Linked DNA regions of Homo sapiens: regions 2 and 3 are each linked to region 1. Evidence: fine-mapped expression QTL. A gene starts in region 1. Each other region holds a variant in brackets. All regions are shown on one strand. Distances are from middle to middle. Region 1 holds the start of PTPN1 (protein tyrosine phosphatase non-receptor type 1). Region 2 has its middle 39 kb from the start of PTPN1. Region 3 overlaps PTPN1 (protein tyrosine phosphatase non-receptor type 1).

What was found. PIP is the estimated chance that this variant, and not a neighbour inherited with it, causes the effect. A credible set is the group of variants that fine-mapping cannot tell apart.
Region 2: its variant is the best candidate, but not a certain one, in a credible set for the expression of PTPN1 in blood mononuclear cells (TOPMed, PIP 0.58).
Region 3: its variant is the best candidate, but not a certain one, in a credible set for the expression of PTPN1 in whole blood (TOPMed, PIP 0.58).

The regions. Positions count from the first base shown.
Region 1 is chr20:50,508,580-50,512,819 of GRCh38, forward strand. PTPN1 (protein tyrosine phosphatase non-receptor type 1) reads left to right here and starts at 1,804. Exons shown (of 10, transcript NM_002827.4): 1 at 1,804-2,011. The coding sequence starts at 1,949. RefSeq lists enhancers at 978-1,565, 1,778-1,877 and a silencer at 1,438-1,667.
Region 2 is chr20:50,469,435-50,473,674 of GRCh38, forward strand. No RefSeq gene overlaps it. Among named protein-coding and RNA genes, the nearest start is that of PTPN1, 39 kb to the right of the region's middle. The variant C/T (reference allele first, on the strand shown) is at 1,658.
Region 3 is chr20:50,574,114-50,578,353 of GRCh38, forward strand. PTPN1 (protein tyrosine phosphatase non-receptor type 1) reads left to right here. Exons shown (of 10, transcript NM_002827.4): 5 at 404-541. Among named protein-coding and RNA genes, the nearest start is that of MIR645, 9.6 kb to the right of the region's middle. The variant A/G (reference allele first, on the strand shown) is at 1,662.

The DNA.
Region 1 (4,240 bases):
CAAAGATATCTGAATCATTTGGCGATGGGTCCAGGAACCTGCATTATTCAACACACTTCCCAGGTGACCGTAAATGTCAAAAGACAAAATTACAACAAACTTAAACATCTTAATTGGCTTCATTCATGATTCTAGAATCGGGCAAGACTTCATTCCTCAAAATAGCACAAGTGTCCCAATGAGCTGAGCAGAGGAGGTTGGTTTTATAGACAGAAAAGGGCTGAAAAAAGCAGAAACAAAGAACAAAAAGCAGATTGGTCATTTCAAAGTTACTTTCCTTGTAAGGCAGGAACAGGGAAACAGAACAAGAGAGAAATAACTGATTGGTCGCATCGGGTTACTTCAGGTTACTTTTTGTTGTAAGGATTAAAGCAAAGGGAACTTCATTATGTTGATTAAAACGGTCTGCTTGGGAAATCAGGGTGTGTATCTCTCTTCTGATTTTGTGAAAGGTTATCAGTCTGATGATGTAGAACTTTAGCATGAGTGACTCCATTTTGATTTTTAGTCTAGTCTGTTGAGACCCTAATGCCAGAACTTTTTTTGTTTGTTTGTTTCGCTCTTGTTGCCCAGGCTGGAGTGCAGTGGAGCTATCTTGGCTCACTGCAACCTCTGCCTCCAGGGTTCAAGCGATTCTCCTGCCTCAGCCTCCCAAGTAGCTGGGATTACAGGCATGCGCCACCACGCCCGGCTAATTTTTTTTTTTTTTTTTTTTTTTAGCAGAAACCGAGTTTCACCATGTTGGTCAGGCTGGTCTCGGACTCTTGACCTCAGGTGATCCACCTGCGTCGGTCTCCCAAAGTGCTGGGATTACAGGTGTGAGCCACCACACCCAGCCCTTTTTTTTCAAGACAGGGTCTCTCTCTGCCACCCAAGGTGGAGTGCAGTGGCGCCAAAACAGCTCACTGCAGCTTCCACCTCCTGGGCTCAGGTGATCTTCCTGCCTCAGCCTCCCCAGCAGCTGGGCCCCACCACACCGGCTAATTTTTTAACTTTTAGTAGTGACGAGGTCTGATTCTGTTACCCAGGCTGGTCTGGAACTCCTGGCCTCAAGACATCCGCCTGCCTCTGCCTCCCAAAGTGCTGGGATTACAGATGTAAGCCACCGCGCCTGGGCTCCTATGATTTTTATTTAACATAATGCACCATGGAATTTGTGCTCTGCTTAGTTCAGTCTGAGCAGGAGTTCCTTGATACTTCGGGAAACACTGAAAATCATTCCATCCCCATCCATTCATTCCTGCAGCACCCAAGTGGAAATTCTGCGTTTCAGACAGGGACACTACCCTTAGAGAGCAGTGGGCTTCCCCAGCAGCGTAGTGAAACATGATACTCCTGAGTTTCATGAAAAAAGGGCAGACATCTGGCCAGAGCTGGGAGGCAGGAAATAGAGCACGGTGCCCTCCTCCCATACTCCAGCTTGGATTACTGAGGCTGGGGCCCAGGCCCTGCAGGAAAGGAGGTGCATGACTACTTTAAGGCCACTCACTCTGTGACTCAACGGGCCGGGTCGGGGCTGGAACTCAATGCCCTCCCGGGCCTGGAGAGCCCACGCGCCGTGGGCGGGGCTCCCGGGGTCGCCTAGGCAACAGGCGCGCGCCGCGCCCGAGCCCAGAGCCCCAAAGCGGAGGAGGGAACGCGCGCTATTAGATATCTCGCGGTGCTGGGGCCACTTCCCCTAGCACCGCCCCCGGCTCCTCCCCGCGGAAGTGCTTGTCGAAATTCTCGATCGCTGATTGGTCCTTCTGCTTCAGGGGCGGAGCCCCTGGCAGGCGTGATGCGTAGTTCCGGCTGCCGGTTGACATGAAGAAGCAGCAGCGGCTAGGGCGGCGGTAGCTGCAGGGGTCGGGGATTGCAGCGGGCCTCGGGGCTAAGAGCGCGACGCGGCCTAGAGCGGCAGACGGCGCAGTGGGCCGAGAAGGAGGCGCAGCAGCCGCCCTGGCCCGTCATGGAGATGGAAAAGGAGTTCGAGCAGATCGACAAGTCCGGGAGCTGGGCGGCCATTTACCAGGTGCGGGAGCGCCCCGGAGCGTGGCGGGCCCTTCGCTTAGGCCGCTTGAACATCCCCTCAGACCTCCAGGCCCCAGACTCCCTCTGGGTCTTGCCCTCTGCCTCGCTCCTACTGCTTGAGGATTCGATGGGACAGCGACGCACTGCGTCCCCCCACCCTTTGTCCCCGGGGCGGGCGTGTTTCTCGCCGCAGCGTCGGAGCCCCCTTCGATCCCCCACCTCCCTTCTGTTCTCCAGCTCGGGTGATCTCTCAAGCCGGGGGACCGCCGGTCTGTGCTCTCAACGCGAATCCCTCGCACCCCGACCCCGCCCCCTGCCTGTCCACTCTTTGTCCCCTGGGGTGATTTAGCACCCCCACTATTTCCTTTTCTGGAGTGGACCACCTCAGACTCTCTTCCTTTGTCTCCCTGGGGGAAAAGGTTACTCCCCCCGTCCCTCCTTCACATTTCCTTTCCCCTAGTCTCAGTGTGCGTCGAGTCCCAGAGATGACAGTCCCCTTTCCCCTTTCTGTTCATTCATTTATTGGATAGGAGTTGGCAAGCTTATTCTGTGCTAGGCACCGCTTAGGCATTGGAGGTGGTGTTTGCTAATCAGGACAGGCAAGATCCTAGCCTTAGTGGGGCCTAGAGTCGAATAGGGCAATCAAACACAAAAGCAAATAATTTCAGATAGTGACAGGTGCTGTGAAGAGAACGACTTCCTAACGGGGTACAGGGTGACTGCATAGAAGGCCGGCTGTCTTAGAGAAGGGGATCAGGGAAGGCCTGTCAAAGGAGGAGACATTTGCTTTGTGAGCTGAACCAAGAGGAGCAGAAAGCCGTGAGAATATGGGGCTAAAGAACCTTCTAGCCAGGAGGCCTGCGGTACCCACTCCATTGGGGCCATGATATTATTCTTTCAGGCAGGGACTCAGGAAGGTTAACGTTTTAACCCTCTCTAAAATAGCATCTTTCCTCAATGAGCAGCTTAGTCTTTGGTCGTGGCAGAGATGACCTTGTCTTAGGAGTCATCTCCTTGTGTGTTAAAAAGTTAGGAAAGGAGGGTTTCTCATATATCTATAAAACAAGTAGTTAAAAACACAAAGAGCTCTTCCTTTCACAAGCAGCTGAATAAGATACATACTCCCAATTAAATGTCATTGCGGGGGTTGTTAAGATTAACTAAAACCACACTTGCACAGTATCTTAAATAAGCGATATACAGAATAGAGAGATTTTGTTACTTGTGTAAAGGGAGACAGCAGATGATTCTGTTTTCAGCTTATAGGCTCAAAAGGCAAATTGTGAGATCCATCAGCTGTAGTATTAAAATCTATTTTGAGCTCCGCTTAGAAAGGAAAAAAGGTTTAAGCAGTTCTTTGGTATGCTTGACTAACAAAAGCCTTTTTTTTTGGCAGCCTTGATTTTCATGTGGATTTACATCAAGCTTATTTGACAGGATTCTTTTTATTTGGACTGTAGTGTGTATATTAGTTTCTGCTAGACTAATATTTCTAACCACTGTAATCTATATACTAATAAGTATGATTGATCAGTATATAAAATTTGTATGCCATATCTGGTCTCTGAATTAGCTGAATGAATTCCATAAGGGACTTTGAGACTGTGTAGACAAATTTTCTGCATCAGTTTAATGCAGTAGAGTCTAAAATGTCTTTAAATGAAAATTGTTGGTCTGAAGTGTTGGAGTTGATTATGATACACCCCATCACAGTGGAAGCATTGTGGAGAGAAGTCTTTTCCACTGAAATTGACTGAGTTGACAACAAGAAATACGTATTGTAACTTAGTTCTTAGTTGAATTTTATTTCTTACAATTTTAAGCCAGAGTGGGTTGACCTGTCACCCAAGCATGGTTAAAATTGTATTCAGCATGCAACTAGCATGGAGTGTGTCAGTCTTCAATTCATTTCCTTCATTGTTCTTAAGTTTTTCTGCCACAATTAAACCCCACAAGTTAGTCAAGGTGTTGAGATTTTCACTGCTTCTTAATGGATTGCCACATTCCCTGAGGTAGTTTCTTTTGGTCTTAGAGAATTGTCAGGGCCAGCTTTTCTCACCTCCACTGTATGGATATTTTTCTTTTCTAAGATCTTGAAATCAGAAGCTTTTCTCCTAAGTGTAAAAGTAGCTCTTTGTCATACAACTGTAGCGTTTTCTGAAACAGAGTTCAGATGACCTTGAGTCTAAAGTGGCTAACTTTCCAAGGTGTGTATCGCTTTACCAAAACC
Region 2 (4,240 bases), 39 kb before region 1:
TAAAAACACTCCCCTTCCTACCAGCTGTGTGACTTTGAGCAAGTCATTTAATTTCCGAGTGCTGCCATTGCCTCATCAGTGAAATGGGGACAATAATCGTACCTACCACATAGGTCTGTTGTGGGCATGAATTTATTTCATATGTGCAAAGCACTGAGCATAGTGCCTGGAACAGAGCAAGATCTCTGTGTGTGAGTTATCATTATGTCTGTTGGTGGGAGTATAGATTAATGCAAACTGGCCCGGTGCAATGGCTCACACCTGTAATCCCAGCACTTTAGGAGGCCAAGGTGGGAGGATAACTTCAGCCCAGGAGTTCGAGACCAGCCTGGGCAACATAGCTAGACCTCGTCTTTACAAAAAATTAAAAAAAAAAAAAAAATAGCCAGATGTGGTGGTGCATGTGTGTGGTCCCAGCTACTTGGGAGCCTGAAGTGGGAGGATCACTTGAGTCTAGGAGGTCAAGGCTAAAGTGAGCTGTGATTGTGCCACTGCACTCCAGCCTGGGTGACAGGGTGAAACCCTGTCTCAAACAACGTAAAACAAACAAAAAAAATGATGCAAACTTTCTGGAGGACAGTTTGTGCTATCTACCAAAGTATTAAATATGTACCCAGCAACATGGTAGCTCATCCAGGGCACAAGAATGATCATTACAGCTTACATTTATTCAACAAGTATTTATTGAGCACCTACTACAGTACTTTAGTCAGAATAAAATAGGCTATACTGCAGGGACAAAGCCAGCGTTGCAGTGACTTAATACAGCAAAGGTTCATTTCTTGCTTTTGCATTATGATACAAATTGAGTACTTTTCTCCATCTGGAACAGGCTGATGCAGGTGAATCCCAAAATCAGGGCTCAGCCTGGGAGGGTTCTTGGCTTCACTCAGGAAAGAATTCAAGAGTGAGCCAACAGTGAAAGAAAGCAAGTTTATTAGAGCAGCAGTGTGCAGCAGAGGGGCTGCTCCGTAGACAGAGCAGGGCTACTCCATAGGCAGAGCAGCCCAGAACAGCAGCAAAGACCACAGCCCAGAGCAGTAGTCCTTGCAGACCAGGGCTACCGATATTTATACCCACTCTTAATTATATGCTAATGAAGGGGCGGGTTATTCAGAATTTTCTAGAAAAGTGGCAGAGGGTTCCCAGAACTATATAAGGTAACTTCCAGGTCATTGCCATGGCATTTGCAGACTGTCCTGGTGCTGGTGGGAGTGTCTTTATGCTATGAGCAGTGAGGGCAACTAGAGGTCACTTTTGTCACCATCTGCTTGTTTCAGCGAGTTTCTTTACTGCATCCTGTTTTGATCAGCAGGGCTGTGATTTGTGCTTGGAAAATAAGTCCTACTGATCTCCTACCTCACCTTCTTTATCTGGAAAAGGAAGTCTTAGAGATGAACACTGTAGGCAAAGAGAGAGCTAGAAGGTAACATGGAATTTTTCAACGGCCAGACCTGAAAGTAGCTTCCATCACTTTTGCATATCCCATTGGGCATAAATGAGCCATGTACTTTCAACCTTACTGCAAGGAAGGCTGGGAAAGGTAGAGGAGCATGTAGATATTGAGTGAGGGGTGTCTTTGTGACATCTACTATGTTCAAAGACAGTGCTAGGAGCTGGGGCAGTCATGGGGGAGCAAGACCAACAAGGTTCCTGC[C/T]CTCATAGGTCCTCCCTTCTAATGAGGGAGATAGACAATAAACCTCTGCTCTAAACATGATCCCAGATATATGTCATTTTGCACTTGAGCAAGAATATCTGATGGATACATTTTCAGAATCTGTGGCTGCTGCGTCAAAGGGTATATATATTTGTCATTTCAACAGATATGGTCAAATTGTCCTCCATAGGACTGTGCCAATTTCCACCTCCACCATCAAGGTACAAAAGTGCTTTTTTTTGCCTGCAGGCTTGCCAACACAGTGTGTTATCAGACTTTTGGATTTTTGCCAATCTGATAGGCGAGAAATGATCTCTGTGTACTTTTAATTTGCATTTTTCTTATTATAAAGGAAGTTGAACATCCTTTCACATGTTTATGAGCTATTTGTATTTCCTTTTCTGTGTACTTGTGTGTACATATCCCTCATCCATTTTCCTCTGAGTCATTGATTGAGGATATTACTAAATGAAAAAGTGAAGGGACAGAACAGAATGCATAGTAGAATCATTTTTGTAAATGAAAAGTGAAACAATATGTTGGCATATACATATAAATATACTCGCATAGGCATAAAAATTTTCTAGAAGCAGCCAGGCGCGGTGGCTCACGCCTGTAATCCCAGCACTTTGGGAGGCCAAGGTGGGTGGATCACTTGAAGCCAGGAGTTCAAGACCAGCCTGGCCAACATGGTGAAACCCTGTTCCTACTAAAAATACAAAATTAGCTGGGCATGGTGGTGCGCACCTGTAATCCCAGCTACTCAGGAGGCTGAGTCAGGAGAATCACTTGAGCCCAGGAGGCGGAGGTTGCAGTGAGCTGAGATTGCGCCATTGCACTCCAGCCTGGGTAACAAGAGCAAAACTCCACCTCAAAAAAAAAAAAAAAAGAAGGTGTAAACAACTACAGATGTCCACCATGAACACCTCCTGTGTGCAAGGCACTGTGGAAGCTGCTGGGAATACAATGGTGAACAAGATGTGTGTGGTCCCTGCCCTCAAGGAGCTAACATCTTAGAGGGTGAGAGAAGAAGGGCAAATTAACAAATGTTTTAGGTCAGGCGCGGTAGCTCACACCTGTAATCCGAGCACTTTGGGAGGCCTAGGTGGGTGGATTGCTTGAGCCCAGGAGTTCGAGAATAGCCTGGCAAAATGGCAAAACCCCATCTCTACAAAAAATACAAAAATTGGCCAGGCATGGTGATGCATGCCTATAGTCCCAGGTACTGGGGAGGCTGAGGTGGGAGAATCACTTGAGCCCAAGAAGTTGAGGCTGCAGTGAGCCATGATCATGCCACTGCACTCCAGCCTGGGCATCAGAGCGAGATCCTGTCTCAAAAGAAAAGAAAAGACCAACAAATCAGTGGGAAAATGGTCAAAAAAAGATCAAAAAGAGGAAAAAGCAAATGGCTCTTAAGCATACCAAAAGATGCTCAGTTTTGGCCAGGCACAGTGGCTCACGCCAGCACTTTGGGAGGCCGAGGAGGGCGGATCACCCGAGGTTGGGAGTTCAAGACCAGCCTGACCAACATAGAGAAGCCCTGTCTCTACTAAAAATACAAAATTAGCCAGGTGTAGTGGTGCATGCTTGTAATCCCAGCTACTTGGGAGGCTGAGGCAGGAGAGTCGCTTGAACCCGGGAGGCGGAGGTTCCAGTGAGCCAAGGTCACACCATTGCACTCCTGCCTGGGCAACAAGAGTGAAACTCCGACTAAAAAAAAAAAAGCTCAATTGCATGTATAAAAAGAGAAATGAGATACCATTTCCTACCACCACCCCGCCCCCACCATTGCACTGGTTTAACCAAAGTCTCAAATTGACAATCCACTGTGTTGGTAAGGGTGTCAGAAAATGAGCACACGCAAACTGATGCGACTCCACATGAAGAGGACTTTGGCATTATTCATTAAGTTTAAAATGACCATAGCTGTTACCAAGGCAATTCTGCTTTTAGGAGTTCATCCTACAGATTTATTCACACACAGCATGGACGCATAACATTTTAAGGGAATGGGGAGGAACAGAATATATATTCACATTTGCTTGTACATGCATAAACCATCTTAGAAAGATATGCAATGGACTAATAACTGATTGTGGGAAGGAACAGCATATGCAAAAGGCCCCAAGCTGAAAAAGAGGTTGGTGTATTTCAGGAACTAAGAGTGTGCCTGGGAAGGATGACATGTGACAAGTGGTGGCCTGAGGCTGCTGAGCCTTGTAGATCACCACTTAGGAGTCTGGTCTTGAGTCCAAATGCAGTGGGAAGACATTCAAAAGAAGATGATCTGATTTCCATTTTAAAAGCATCTTGCTGCCATTTGGAGAAACTACTGGAGGAAGGCAAGACGCAAGTCAGGAGACTGATTAGCAGGCTGGACAGTTCCCTGAGGGAGGGACAGGGAGCGGGTGGCTGCACCTGAGAGGTGGCAGTGGTGAAAACGAGCAGGCAGATTGAAGACAGTTTGAAATTGCAATGGATGAGTTGGATGTGGCCCAGGAGGGGTAACAGAGCAGACTCAAGGAAGACTCAAGGCTGAATTCTGGCTTACGTGGCCACATGGGTGGCTATGGAGGCTACTGG
Region 3 (4,240 bases), 66 kb after region 1:
CAGGGTAAGGCACCTACATTCTATGCCAGCAGCCTGATCAGGTCCTGGGTAATGTTTGAAATGGCTACACAGAGGAGTTTCAAAGCCTTTTGTTCAATCTGGCTTCACCTCGTAGACGGTGAGAAAGCGTCAGAGCCCTGCAGGATCCCGTTGCCACGTTTGACCGGGGAGCCGATGGGTTTGGAAGTCTGAGCCCTGTCTGCACAACCTGCCCCGGTCAGCAGCTTCGTGCCCCCACCCCCATCTCCCCATGAGGCAGGCATCTGTGCTGACCATGGCTTCCATGTTCAGAAACCCCCAGGCCTTTGAGTTATCATGAAGCTTGTGGGATGTGCTCCAAGCCTCCTGCCATAGAAAAACTGCCATATTGCTCACAATAATTCACTATTATTTGTTTCCCCAGTTAAAATGCGCACAATACTGGCCACAAAAAGAAGAAAAAGAGATGATCTTTGAAGACACAAATTTGAAATTAACATTGATCTCTGAAGATATCAAGTCATATTATACAGTGCGACAGCTAGAATTGGAAAACCTTACAGTGAGTATAGCACACACTTCAGCACTTCAGGCGGCTACTGGTTCACATGCCTCTTCCTTTATCCCTTGGGTGATATTACCTAATGTCAGTGTTCCTGGCTTTTGTATACCCCGAGCAAGATGTGGTTTGGGCACTGTGGTGAGCGGAGCTTACTTGTGTACCTACCAAGTGCCCAGGGAGGGTGGAGGCCACAGTGCTCTCTCTGACCTTTAACAACAGTTAACACCAGTTCTTAGGGAAAGGAGAGTTTCTTACCCAAAAGACTGGTTCCTGCTTGTGCAGCTGCAGAGGGACTGGAGCGGCAGCCTGCAAGTCCCAGTGAAGCATGCTGCCTTCTTTGTGGTCCTCAGTCTTCGAGTCTGAAGAGAGGGAAGAAGGGGTATAGGGGCTCACTCCAGTTTCATAGCTAGTGAAAGTTTTCTGGGCCAGGTCTTGGGTTTTTTTGTTGTGGGAAGAGTTTATAACACCAGCTACTTGCTTGGTAAAAGTTGGTCTTGGAACATGGCAAGGCATTGTGGCAAGCAGCACTGCCGCTGAACGCGCTGCTCCTGGGGCTTTGGAATAATTCCCCTGGATCCGTAACTTGGGGGTGTTCATGTCATTCTGGGGAACAGTGGAGGGAGTGCGCGGCAGCACCTGGGGGCACCAGTGAAGAGTGGCCAGCCACCAACCTCTAGAACCTAACTGGGGTCGAATCCTGGCCCCACCTTACTAGCTCATCACAGTGTCTCCGTTTCCTCTTCTGTCAAACTCAGGTTTTGCGAGGGTTCTGGGAGGTCCTATACGGGAAGGGTTAGCAGTTACCATGGGTGTGTAGCACGGGCTTTATCTGAAGGGAAGGTGGAGCCGTAGGGAGACCATGTGGAGTGGGGCTCCAGGGCTGTGTGGGTGGGGAGGGATCTGCTTCTGGGTTACCCCATGCCTCCCCTTCTCAAGTACTACTTTTTAATCATCATGGCTCCTGCCATTCATTTCATAGTTGATGTAAGCCAGGTGCGGTGGCTCACGTCTTTAATCCCAGCACTTGGGGAGGCTGAGGCCAGGAGGATCACTCGAGGCCAGGAGTTCAAGACCAGCTTGGGCAACATAGTGAGACCCCCGTCTCTACAAAAAAACAAAA[A/G]CAGTTAGTCAGACATCGTGGTGCTCCCCTATAGTCCAGCTACTCAGGAGGCTGAGGCAGGAGGATTGCTTGTGCCCGGGAGTTCAAGGCTGCAGTGAGCTATGCTTGCACCACTGCACTCTAGCCTGGGTGACAGAGCAAGACCCTGTCTCAAAAATAAATAAATAAAAAAAATAGTAGAAGTAAGATCTAGAATGTAGCACAGGTTACCAGGACGTAGGCAAGGGGTTCGGGCTGCCTGGCTCTTGAGGATGGTAGCAGTGCAGCTGATGTGAGTGCTTTCTGCCCTCTGGTGGTGACCGCGCCGGAGTCACCAGCCCTGCCATAGCCCTGATGGGGCAGAGGGTTCTGAGTACGGTGGATGGAGGTGCTTTCTGGAAGATTCTCAGGAGTAACATGGGCAGTGTGTTGGAATGTGCTAGAGGATTTATGCAGTAGCCTTTTAAAAGAATGCTTTTTAGCATTTGCAAGCCTGACATTAAGAGTGACTTCTGGGAAACTATTTGCTTGTTGAGGGAAACTGAATTTCAACAGAGCAGAAGAGCTGTGCGCTTTTTGCTTGGCAGAGTGAATACAGCCAGCTCAGAGGTTTTGATGTTAGGATCTGTTTGCTCCAACAGACTTTGTTTTTAAAAGGCTTTTCTCAGCCATAGCTGTCTGTTCTAGCACAAGGCTGGAATGAGTTCCTTGTGAAAGAGGTGAGCAGGTGTGAGGGAGGGTGTCAGTGGGCGGTAACCCACACCTTCAAGGATTAAAGGAAAACTTGCATTTGGCATGCTTGCTTCTTATTCAATTTTAAAATACATTTTAACGGCCGGGCACGGTGGCTAACACCTGTAATCCCAGCACTTTGAGGGGCTGAGGTGGGTGGTTCACGAGGCCAGGGGTTCAAGACCAGCCTGGCCAAGATGGTGAAACCCCATCTCTACTAAAAATACAAAAAAAAAAAAAATTAGCCGGGCGTGGTGGCGGGCACCTGTAATCCCAGCTACTCGGGAGGCTGAGGCAGAGAATTGCTTGAACCCAGGAGGCGGAGGTTGCATTGAGCCGAGATCATGCCACTGCATTCCAGCCTGGGCGGCAGAGCAAGACTCTGTCTCAAAATAATAATAATAATTTTTTAAAAATACATTTTAAGTCCTTTTCTTCCCCACCTGCCTCCACCCACCAAATAGAAGAGGTATTTCTTCTTCTTTAATGTCATTAAGGTTATATGGATACCATTTTCTAGAGAGGAAAGAATGATGGAATTGCCTAGTGTGAGTCTAGCAATTATCCTAACATACACAAATTTCTCCTTGTTCTGTGCCAAGATACTGTATTTAATATTTAATGAACATTAAATATTATTTACTAGTGTATTTAATGGCTGAGGCAGGGTTAAATATGTATTATTTTCATCCCAGCAGAGTTGGGGGAGGTCCTAGTAACTATGCCATGAGCTCTGTGAGGGTGAGGTGGTGTCTTTGCCCCCGCCTCCCTGGCACAGTGACTGGCACATGATTGGCATAGTGTGGACATTCGTCAAGTGAAGGAAGGCATCATGAGCAGATCTCTGGCCTGAATCCTTCTGCCATCAGCTGCTCGCCAGGTGGCCCTGGCACTGGGCCACAGGGAAACTCTCCAGGCTGGTATGGTTCCTGTCTGTGGCTGTCTTCCCGGGCCCATGTTAGGAGACTTTCACTTCCAGAGCCCTTTCCCTCTCAGGGCCTTGCTTACCAAGTGACTGGTTCCCATTTACTAGGAGCTCTTAGGTCATTGAAGATGTTGCGTACTCCCCCCAGTGAGGGCTGCCTTTTGATCACAGCCGCCAGAAGCCTCAAGGAAGGAGCAGAGCTGGAAACAGACGCCAGGCCATTGCTTCTGTTCCTCTGGGGCAGACCCAGCCACGGAAGAGACATTCTGGGACAAGGGCTGGGGTCCACCTTTCAAACGTGTCTGCAGCAGGCTCTCAGCATGGACTCTCTGCCTCCAAACATCCACCTCCTCATCGGAAAATGGATGGGAGTGCCTGCCTGGAGCAGCTGGTGGGAGAGCGCAGCGCCAGCACGTAGGACACACTCGGTTCATGGGCTGATGCCGTTCGCATTGACTGCCTCTTCAGCTGGGTGTTGAGCCACACCTTGGAGTCACCAGTCTTTGGAGACCAAGTCTGCTACTTTTTTCTCTAAAGTGACAATCCTCTGAAACCTCCAGATCATCTTGAAGCCCCCGTCTGAAAGTTGCCCAGAGCCAGTGCCTCACCTGCTGTTCCTTGTTCACTTTTTCACGGGAGGCCTTGCAGGGCTTTATGACAAGATTTTATGGGTGGCTGCCCAGCATCATTGTGACTCGTGAGACAGAGAGAAACCAGTTGTAACCATGTAGACAGTGGAAGTGATAGGGAGAAAAGAGGTGAGGGGACTCTTCAATCCGAAGGGAAATGAAGTCTAAGCAGGCGCACCCTGCAGGTTCAGTGTCAAGCCCAGGGCCTGGCCCCAGGGTGTGGTATTTGTTGACTGGGTGTGTGGACCCTGGGAGAAAGTCTGAGAATGAATGTTCCTCTTAGAGGTAGAGAGTGGAAGGTGACTCTGTGTGTA